Regions from separate parts of the Homo sapiens genome. Here region 1 is linked to region 2. A link means that fine-mapping ties the variant in region 2 to the expression of a gene that starts in the linked region. Tissue or cell type: thyroid. Region 2 holds a variant in brackets; the other region holds the start of a gene. All regions are shown on one strand. Distances are from middle to middle.

Region 1 (5,387 bases), 34 kb before region 2:
AGTTAGAATAGGTAATACAGCTTCTAACTGGCTTTCTCTCAGGAAGGTTCTCCGTGGAACCAAGGTTCTATGCTGTGTGAGAAAGCCCTGGCCACGTCAACCACCAAACATGTGAGTGAGGAAGCCTTCTAGATGATTCCACCCTAACCACCATCTGGCTAGAGCTGGATGAGAGACCTGAGGGAGAGCTGCCTAGCTGAGTCCAGTCAATCCCCAGAATTGTGAGAGAAGATGATATATGATTGTTGTTTCATCTCACTAAGTTTGGGATGGTTTGTTACACAGCGGTTGATAACTAGACCAGAGACCTTTCCTAGAAACGCTGGAGAACACGTGCCAGGATGGTCCTGGACATCTCCATTGTTTGCTGCTTGCTTCTCTACTGTGCCCATTGCCTGTGCTTTCACCAAACCCCCTATTAACCAGACATTGTCAGCTACCAGAAGTTTCCTGTCTTAGGATCTTGACACTTTTGAGACTCTTTGAAGTTACGAGACATGATGGACTTACTATCAAAAACTTGGCAAGCACAGTTACATCAGCAAGTGTTACTTTGTTCAAGTAAGAGGGGAAATAGTGCAGCATGGCAGTTAACCCTGTGCTCTCTAAGCTTTTACTGAATTTCAGTGGGTCATTCTAGAGACTTGGTAGCCACATGCGTGTCAGTTTGTTGATATTCAGTATTGATTATTCTCATAGGAGCTGTATATAATTGTTTTGAGCTTAAAACAAAGAAAATGATTAGTTTATGGTTCTAATCTTTTGGATTTTTTTTTTTTTTTTTAGACGGTGTTTCACTTTTGTCGCCCAGGCTGGAATGCAGTGGCGCGATCTCGGCTTACTGCAACCTCCACCTCCCGGGTTCAAGCGATTCTCCATCCTCAGCCTCCTGAGTAGCTGGGATTACAGGCGCCCGCCACCACACCAGGCTAATTTTTGTATTTTTAGAAGAGACAGGGTTTCACCACATTGGCCAGGCTGGTTTTGAACTCCTGACCTCAGGTGATCCACCCCCCTCGGCCTCCCAAAGTGCTGGGATTACAGGCGTGAGCCACCACGCCTGGCCTTGGATGTTTTAAAGTAAAATTTTCCCCACTGCAAAATAATAGATATGTGTTGTAGGAACTTTTGGAAACACAAGGCACAAAGGAAAAAATACCTTCATATTTCTCCTTTTCCCATCTCCCCAGAGACTTTTTTCTCCTTATTTGTTGGCATATGTCTTTCCATACTCTTCAATGCATATATATTCACAGGATAACATTATATGTGGTATTTTAGAACCACATTTCTAACATTCCATTTATCATGTTTTGTATTTGCATAGTATTCCATTTCGTAGTTGTACCATAATATCTTTAGACAATGCTTGTGGTCAAATAATTTCCCCCAATATTTTACTGTTACAAAAAATGTTTCGATGAACATTTTGGTCTAAAGTTGATGGATCAAGGAATATAGGGGTCATTATAAGTTAACAAATACAGCGTCAGATCATGGTACTACTCTGCTGAAAATCCCCCTTGGCTCCCATCTTACTCAGAGCCAAAGCTAAGGTCTTTACCATGACCTAAAATACCCTCAGCCATCCGGAGTGTGCATGTATGCATACACACAGACATGTACATGCCACTCACTCCTGCCTCTCTAGCTCATCTTCTCCTGCTCACCCCTGACTTGTTCCCCTGAAGCTATTCCTGGAATACACCAGGCAAGCAAGCCCCTGTGTCAGGGCCTTGGCACTTCTTCCTTCTGCCTATAACAATTCCTCCAAGTATCCACAGGCTTCCTCTTTCACTTCCTTTGTTGCGTTGGCTCAGATATCGCCTTATCTGAGTGCCCTTCCTTAACTATACAATACAAAATAAGTTCATGAATCTGCCCTCACCCCTACATTCCCTGTTTCCTTTACCTTGTTCTATTTTTCTATAACATTTACCTGACAAATCTTATGTTTGTTTATTGTCACTCTTCTTCCAGAATGTAAGCACTGTGAAGTCAAGGACTTTGTTAGTTTTGATCACTATTGTATCCATGGGTTCTAAAGCACTGCCTGGCACATAGTTGGCACTCAGTAAGCTAAGAAATAATAAGACTAACATATTGGGATTGTGGCAAGGAGGTAAGTATACTCCACTTTTTCAAGGGGATTATAAAGGGCATCATTTTTAGGTGGGAGATATTGGACATAGGAGTTTGTGAACCAAGAGACAGAGAAAGATGTTACTTGGAGATATGGAGGTTATAAGTATCAGAAGATTAGAAGTTCCGGGGATGTTTTAAAGTAAAATTTTTCCCATTGCAAAATAATAGATATCTGTTGTAGGAACGTTTAGAAATACAACTAAAGCACTTTTTGCTTTACTTGGAGTGGGTGGGACTGGAATTGGGAGGAGGGGCCATGGAGAGGCTGCTTTTTTTCATTGTGCATCTTTCTGTAAGACGTGAATTTATACCATGTACACCAATTACTTAAATAATAAGAGCATGTTTGGACTTCCAGTTTCTGGTGATGGCTGGTTATGAAAACTTGAAGAAACAAAATAATGGCTTTTTTTAAGTGAAGAACTAAAAAAACATTGAACTTCCAGGCCAGTTTTTGGATAAAAGTCTATAACCAGGGAGGGAAATGGAATACTGGAACAAAAAGCTGCCTGTGCTGAGACAGCAGTTGCTGATACCACAAACACTTGTCTGCTGTTTCTGTGGCCTGGCTGAGCCAAGAAAACATGTTAAAGCACAGAGCCCACGCAAGACAGTGTGCTTGCAGGAGACCCTACCAACAGGAATCGGATAACAAGGAGCTAAAGGTAAGGAGGAGTCAGAGCTGAACCCAGTGCCCTCTTCCCAGCAGTTGTAATGAACTGTGGCTACCTTGGTGCTCTTGGAGCAGGGAGGAAAAGAAATAGAAAATACAATTTCCCTGGAAGGCCTGTGCATATCTGCTTCCCTGAAGATTAGCTTCTCAAATATACATAGCTGGTTGGGCCAAGGATTCTCAAAATCTGAATTCGGCAGAAGCACAGCAAGATCTCTCTGGAAGAGGGCTCATCTCAAGCGTCAGGAGACTCCCGTTAAATACTTATTCAAGAATAATGTGTGGCAAGCGATAAAGATTACAAGTTACCCAAGCAACTTGAATATGAATGAGAATAGAAAATCACAGAAGCCCAGCTTCTTCCACTTAGCATAATCATTTGAGTCATCCATGTTGTCATGTGTATTCAGCAGCTTGGTCCTTTTAATTGCTGAGTGGCAATCCATAGTTTACTCATCCATTTACTAGTGGAAGATTTGTGTTGGTTCCAGTTTTTAGTGACAGTGGTTAAGCTGCTGTTAACATTCACCTAGAAGTTTTTTTGTTTTGTTTTGTTTTGTTTTTGAGACAGAGTCTCGCTCTGTCGCCAGGCTGGAGTGCAGTGGTCCGATCTTGGCTCACTGCAACCTCCGCCTCCCAGGTTCAAGTGATTCTCCTGCCTCAGCCTCCCTAGTAGCTGGGATTACAGGCACATGCCACCACGCCCAGCTAATTTTTGCATTTTTAGTAGAGACTGGGTTTCACCATGTTGGCCAGGATGGTCTTGATCTCTTGACCTCATGATCCGCCTGCCTCTGTCCCGCAAAGTGCTGGGATTACAGGCGTCAGCCACTGCGCCCGGCCTCACCTAGAAGTTTTTATGTGAATCAAAGATTTTGTTTCTCTTGAGTACATTCCTAGGAGTGGGATAGCTAGTTATATGATAAATATGTATATATACTTAGTAGGAAATTGCCAAACAGGTTTGCAAACTGGTGGTGCCACTTTGCATTCCCACCAAAAATGTATGAAAATTCCAGGTGATTGGCATCCTCACCAGAATTTGATATTGTCTGCAGTTTTGATGTTTTTGCTATTTTTTTGTTTTGACTTGGGTATACGGTGCATTTCATTGTGTTTTTCATTTTCATTCTCCCAATGCAAATGATGTTGTGTATTTTTTCATATTCTTCTTTGCTACAGGTATATTTTCTTTAGTGAAGTGTCTATTCAACCCTTTGGCACATTTTTGAAAAACTGGATTGTATGTTTTCTTACTGAATCTTGAGAATTCTTTGTATATTCTTGATACAAATCCTTTATCAAAAATATGGTTTTGGCCAGGTGTGGTGGCTCACGCTTGTAATCCCAGCACTTTGGGAGGCCAAGGTGGGCAAATTGCTTGAGCCCAGGAGTTCGAGACAAGCCTGGGCAGCATGGTGAAACCCCATCTCTACAAAAAAAAAAAAAAGTACAAAAAATACAAAAAATTAGCCAGGCATGGTGGTGGCACACGCCTTTTGTCCCAGCTACCTGGGCGGTTGTGGCTGTAGTGAGCCATGATTGTGCTGCTGCACTTCAGCCTGGGAGACAGAGTGACACCCTGTCTTTAAAAAAAAAAAAATTATATATATATATATATATATGTCAAATATATATATATATATGTCAAATATATATATATGTCAAATATATATATGTCAAATATATATGTCAAATATATACATATATATGTCATATATACATATATATGTATATATATACATATATATGTCATATATATAACATATATATGTCATATATATACATATATATGTCATATATATATACATATATATGTCATATACACATATATATGTCATATATATACATATATATGTCACATATATATACATATATATGACATATATACATATATGGCATATATACATATATATGGCATATATATACATATATATGGCATATATATACATATATGTCATATATACATATATATGTCATATATATACACATATATGTCATATATATACATATATATGTCATATATATACATATATATGTCATATATACATATATATGTCATATATACATATATATGTCATATATATACACATATATATATGTCATATATATATACGACATATATATATGTCATATATATATACATATATATATATGTCATATATATATACATATATATATGACTTGCAAGTATTTTCTATTTTCTCCCAGTCTGGCTTGTTCTTTTGTTTTCTTAGCAATGTCTTTTGAAGAGCAGACATTTAAAATTTTGATGGAAGTTCAATTTATTGGGTCTTTTTCTTTTTTGAATTGTGCTTTTGGTGTCAAATCTAAGAAATGTTTGGTAAACCCAAAGTTACAAAGATCTGTCTTCTAGAAAAGAGGTGAGCAAACTTTTTCTGTAAAGGGCCAAATAGAAAATATTTTAGGCTTTACAGGTCATAGTCACTGTTGTAGCATGTAAGCAGCCATAAAATACATAAATGAATAGGTGTTCAGTAAAACTGTTTTTACAAAAACAGATAAAGATTTGGCCCATGAGCCTTAGTTTGCTAACTCTTGTTGTAGA
Region 2 (5,387 bases):
CTGGCTCCATAGGGTGGTGCCAGCTCCTGCCCTGTTCTTTTGTGCTGTGAAGACACAGGTGCCCCCTATGTTCAGTGACTTGACACTTAAATGGCAGTATGGTCTTTGGTAATAATAATGAAAACTAACAGCTATGCTTTTCACTGACAAAGGTAGGATATTGCAGGAAGCTTGATGTTGAATACTTTGGGGTTTTACTTTGAGAACTCCTAGTCCTGTATTGGACCTTGTTGGAAAGTTCCCTGAGCCTATGAGTGAGAAGGGGACAACTTGGGAGTCCCACGGTGAGCGGAAATGAGACCCGCTGGCTTGATAGTAACTAACTGCCATACGTTGAGCAGGACTCTGTGCCAGGCTTTGTGCCAGCTACTTTCCATGACTCATTTAATCCTCTCAACAACCTTTTGAGTCAGATTCTCTCAGTTTTTCCAAGGAGGAAATCAAGATTCTGGCCGTCTTAAGAGTGCTCCAAAGCCACACAGCTAGGGCGCTCCAGAGAGCTAATACCACATGGCCACACAGTGGCTCCACATGGCTTTTTAAAGAAGTTCCATGTCAGCATGGACATGACACAAGTGCAGGTGTGAAATATGGGAGCTGTAGCTTCTTTCCCAAAATCAATCAAGATGTCCTGTGGAAAGAAAGAGATATAGCCCTCGTTTACAGAATTTTTTTTTTCAATTGTCTTTTTCTTGATTAGGAAAAGTCTCCATGTTTCTGCTCAGAAGCTCACCTGTTTCTAATAAGAGAACCTTTCCATCAAATTAGGAGCCTGGTCTCAGTTTTACAGGAGGAATAGAAAATCTACCACTTGCCATCTGGAAGATCAAAGTATTTCCAAATAGAATTTAAGTCAATACCACACAAATTCTAATTCCCTAGAAGCAGCAGTTTTAATTTTGATAGTCTCTAAAAGCAATAACATTTGGTAGTTTCTGAGTAAATTTTAGACTCTCAAGGGTTTAGTTTTAGCAGTTTAATAAAATGTGAATTTTGTCTGCTGAGAAGTGAACTTTGTGGTAAGACTTGGCGAGTCTGAGGTCTGTGGTACTCCCCCTTTGGCCTTCAGTGGGCCATGCTCATTCCCTTCTTTCTTCTTTCTGGGCATATTTGCTGCCCAGATTCTGCAGTAAGGAGAGAGTGGCTGCCTTGGGGTGATTATTAGGTGAATACTCAGGTCTGGGGTTGGGAGGGACCTCGTAGGAACCACCAAAATCGAGCCTTTAAGGAACTGCCGCCTTGTAGTTGCTTAACTGTACAGGATTTCCCCCGCAACGGTCCCCTTCCTAACAGGCTGCTCTACAAAGCCAGGCTTGGACTCATAAGAACTCAGAGGTGGACCGTTGGAGGCCCTGCATGCCTTCCTCTGTCACGTGCTGCCCCTGGCAGCTCGGTGCTTCTTGCCATGGGCCTACCTGGATCCGCCACTCAGCAGTGAACAGCCGAGGAAGGTAGTGGACGTCGAACCTGGCCCGTGGGCTCTACCATGGCATGGTGATGAAGGCATGAACTTTGGCCCACTTGGCCTGTCCTGGCACCAGCCACCCCCTACTCACAAGTTATTTCCTCTGAGAAGCCACCTGAAGAGATTCAGAGGCCAGATGGAGAGACCTCAGAGGCTGCCACAGCCGCTTCCTGTCCCTTGGTAGGCAGAGAGGCCTGTGAAGGATCAAACTGGTGACACCCCTGGCCTTCATCAGGCTCTCCTCATAGCACATCACCCCAGAGCCCCTTCCCCACTGTGGAGTGAATCAGGATGGGGCTCAGGAGTCAATGAGTGCTTACCAAGCCAAGTCCCTTCAAAAACTCCAGACTCAACCCGTAAGAGTGTTTTCAGTATTTTATTAACAAATGAGCTGGCAAGAGGACAAGTGATCTAGTAGTATCACCCCCACCCTCATGGAGCAGCCACCACAAGCCCACCATGGTGGGGGGTGTCCAACATGCTCTGCTGGCCCAGTTCCCAGCCGATCCCCTGAGTCTTGGCGCCCGTTTAGTCACCCTTCAGCTGCTTGGGAGGCAGGAAGAGACTTCCCCTCTTCACGAGGTAAGGGAGACAAAAGCAGCCATTTGGATGCCAGGGCCACAGGGGCAAGCCATGCCCTATTTCTTTGGAGGGACAGAATCACTTCTTCCCAAGGCCAGACACTGTAGCCCATGGTACTCAGCCTTCTAGAGGAGGGTAGCCTAGCAGAGGAGAAGCCCTGAGTGGAAGCAGCATTTTGAAGGCATCGTCATTCTTAGACCAGCTAAGAGCTGAGGGCATTCTCTATCTTTGCCAGCAGACAGTGAGACTCCAGGATTAAAATTAAAAGCCCGTGGTGCATCCTTTCCTTGACATTAACTTTCCACAAAACCTTGGAGGAGTCAAATCCCACACTGCACATACTCCGGTGTCTCCAGCTGTGAAGTGGGACCAGTATCAATACATGGGAAAGTGCTGAGAAGGAAGAAAATATTTCAGGTATAATACTAATCCATCAAACACGTTTTATTCAAGAAGCTTGGCACCAACTTTGTGCCACATCCTCAACTCTTCAATGAAAAGAGCGGTGACCAACTCGCTCCCGTTGGTCCCTATGGCAGGTGTTGGAATGAGGTGAGGCTGGCCTCCTCTGTTTGCTCACAGCTTTATTCCTCTAGCTTCAGATAAAAATAATTATAATAGGCAATAAAGTCTCTTCACAGTGTATTTACTGTAACTACAACAGCTCGCAAGACACATTCTTTTTCTGCAGAATTGTAGCGGGTACTTAGGGAGTTTGCCGACCAGACCTTCTGCACAGGAAGCTGGCTTGCATCATGGAGGCAGTGGACTCCTGATAGTCCCGCCTGCGCAGGCCCCTTTAAGACACTGACACAAAAGACTGCCCAGAGTGGCATTTGCTGCTGAGGCTCCAGGGCAAAAACCCCATGAACAGGAAAGCATCCTCTCAGAAACAGATAATCCGCTTCTCATCTTCATAGACTTTGGCCTCCTCTGGTTTTATCAGGTTTCCATTTAGGCTGTTGAAAAGGAGGAAGACAAAAGTACACAGGTAAAATGTTAAGGATCCTCGCACACTCCTTCCCAAGGTGTGTTCATAGCACACACTCGTGTATCACACAATACACATGTATCCCTGAAATTAAGGAACATACCCTTTGCAGATAGTTCCTTCATATTAGCATGGAT[C/T]CTCTCCAGCTGCCATCCCTCTGTTCACTGGGTCTCACTAAGGTCACCTGTAGCCTCCATAAGCCTGAATTTAATGACATTTTCCAGGTCTTGTCTTTCTTGGCCCTCAGGATTTTGGCTGTCCTGACCTCTCCTCTCCCTCCTTCTTGAGGCACTCCCTCCCCTTGGCTTGGTTATATGCGCTGATTTTTCTCCTGCATCTGAGCACTCTACTTCAATTTCCTTTCCTATATTCTCCTCCATGTGACCTCTACATCTGAGATTTCCTCCAGGTTTGGGGCTAAGCCCTTTTCCCCACCCGATCTCATCAATGCCACGGCCTTGTTTGTATGTCCGTGGAGGCAGTTACCTGCTTGGCATCCTCACTTGGACCTCTCCCCCACACCTCAAAGTAGCCACACCTCCTAGGGTCCCCTGGCTTAGTGAATGGACCACTCTCATCCTGCTGAGCAGGTTAGTAACCTGGGGGTCAACCTGGACACCTTCCTTCTCATCCCCATGTTCCTTGTATCACAAAGTTCTCCCCTAATTCCTAAGAATCTAGAATGCCTCCCTGGAACCTCTATGTCTTTGGCCGGCCATCTTGGTCTGAGCACCCATCATCTCTTCCCTGCATCAGTACAATGTCCTACTGACAGGTCATTTCCACGTACTCTGGCCTTCTCCAATTCAGTTTCCTAGAAGAGCCAAGAATTGGTCTTTTTGCATTGCAGATCTGATCACATGCCTCTCCTGCTTCAAACTGTTCACTGACTTTCCATCACTTTTAGGATAAAGACCAAAATGCACATCATGACCCACAGATCTTTTATGGTCCAGTCCCTGCCTATCTCCTCAGCCTCCTGTAGTCCCCTCTTCCACACTGTCTGAACCCTGGGGCACAGCAGCTTCTGGCAGTTCTTCCAGGACACCACACTCCCTCCTGCCCCAGACCCTTTGCACATGCTGTTCCCTACGCAGAATACTCACCTCAGCTGACTAGCTCCTATTCATCCTTCATGGCTTAGTGTAAGTGCTGCTTCCTCAGAGAGGCCTTCCCTGCAACCTCATCTAAATCAGGTTCCCTCTTGGCCTTCCCCTTTGTGATAGTACCCATCACAGTTGTAATTAAATAATTACGCAAATGATTTTTTCTTTAATGTGCTTCTCCCTTTCTAGACAGTGAACCCATGAAGCCATGTTGTTCACCACTGGATTTTTGGTGCTAGCACAGTCCCTGATGCTCAAGCGTTTCGTTATTCAAGGAATAAATGAAGACACAGCACTAGTCCCTAGGACCTTGACTCAGGCCCCACCCTCCCAGAGCCACAGTCTGGAGGAGATAGCCTCACAGAAAGCTGTTATACTGGAGTGGGATACATTTCTGTAATTTACAGTGTTCATTGTTCACCTCTAATTTCTGTTCTTAAAGACAGAACTCATCAAGGGACTTCAGACTTCCAAGTTATTTTCAGAAAGGAATGAGGTAGAAATAAGTGTCAGTACAGTTAACAAGTCCAAGGAGAAGGCTTACTCTGTAAGTGTTGGCTCCAAGCAGAGCTGCTCCCTGAACGTGGCTCCCCGGCCAGCTCAACCACAACCCTGTGGCCTGGTGTGGCAGTCCCTGGCAGGGCCAACAAAGCCACAGCCTTCTCAGAGCCCAGTCCCATGAAGTCACACACAGAGGAGCATGCTCTGGAGGCTCCCAGAACAAGCCAGGGACCTAAGTGAAGACACTCCCAAGACCAGCACCCATGCCGCCTGTCCTGCCCTCTCTGAATTGGTGGCCAGTTCCCCTCTCCACCCTGACACAAGTGCAGGCCTTGAAGCTGAAGTCTCCTGGCCCTACTAAAATGGTTCCTTGTGTAGGAATGGTGACCCTCAAGAGGGAAGCAATGCAGATTTTGAAACTTGACAGAATTAAAGCAACTGTAGGTCTTTACTACCCGCCTGACCAGCTACAGAGAAAAGTGGAAGCCAACTGTGCTCTGCAAACTGTTCTGTAGTCTGGCAGTCTCCTTCCTCTCCCCCTCTGCCTGCTGTCCTCAAAACTTAAGAATCAGCAGAAACGGAGTGGCCTGAGGGCAAACACCCATGCAAACAGTTCCAGTGCCCTCCAGTGCTTCCCAGGCTGCTGGGCAGGCTGGGCTTCGCAGGCACACAGGCCACAGGTGTCTGTTTAGATCTGGGCTCTATTCTCTATGATGGTGTTTTTCTTTTTTTCTTTTTTGTT

The links. PIP is the estimated chance that this variant, and not a neighbour inherited with it, causes the effect.
Region 1: LINC01176 starts here. The variant in region 2 is fine-mapped to the expression of LINC01176 in thyroid (GTEx, PIP 0.97).

The regions. Positions count from the first base shown.
Region 1 is chr7:30,388,226-30,393,612 of GRCh38, forward strand. LINC01176 (long intergenic non-protein coding RNA 1176) reads left to right here and starts at 2,660. Exons shown (of 3, transcript NR_108081.1): 1 at 2,660-2,810. RefSeq lists an enhancer at 2,842-3,460.
Region 2 is chr7:30,422,705-30,428,091 of GRCh38, forward strand. It overlaps NOD1 (nucleotide binding oligomerization domain containing 1), which reads right to left. Exons shown (of 14, transcript NM_006092.4): 14 at 1,823-3,006. The coding sequence ends at 2,934. Among named protein-coding and RNA genes, the nearest start is that of LINC01176, 35 kb to the left of the region's middle. The variant C/T (reference allele first, on the strand shown) is at 3,176.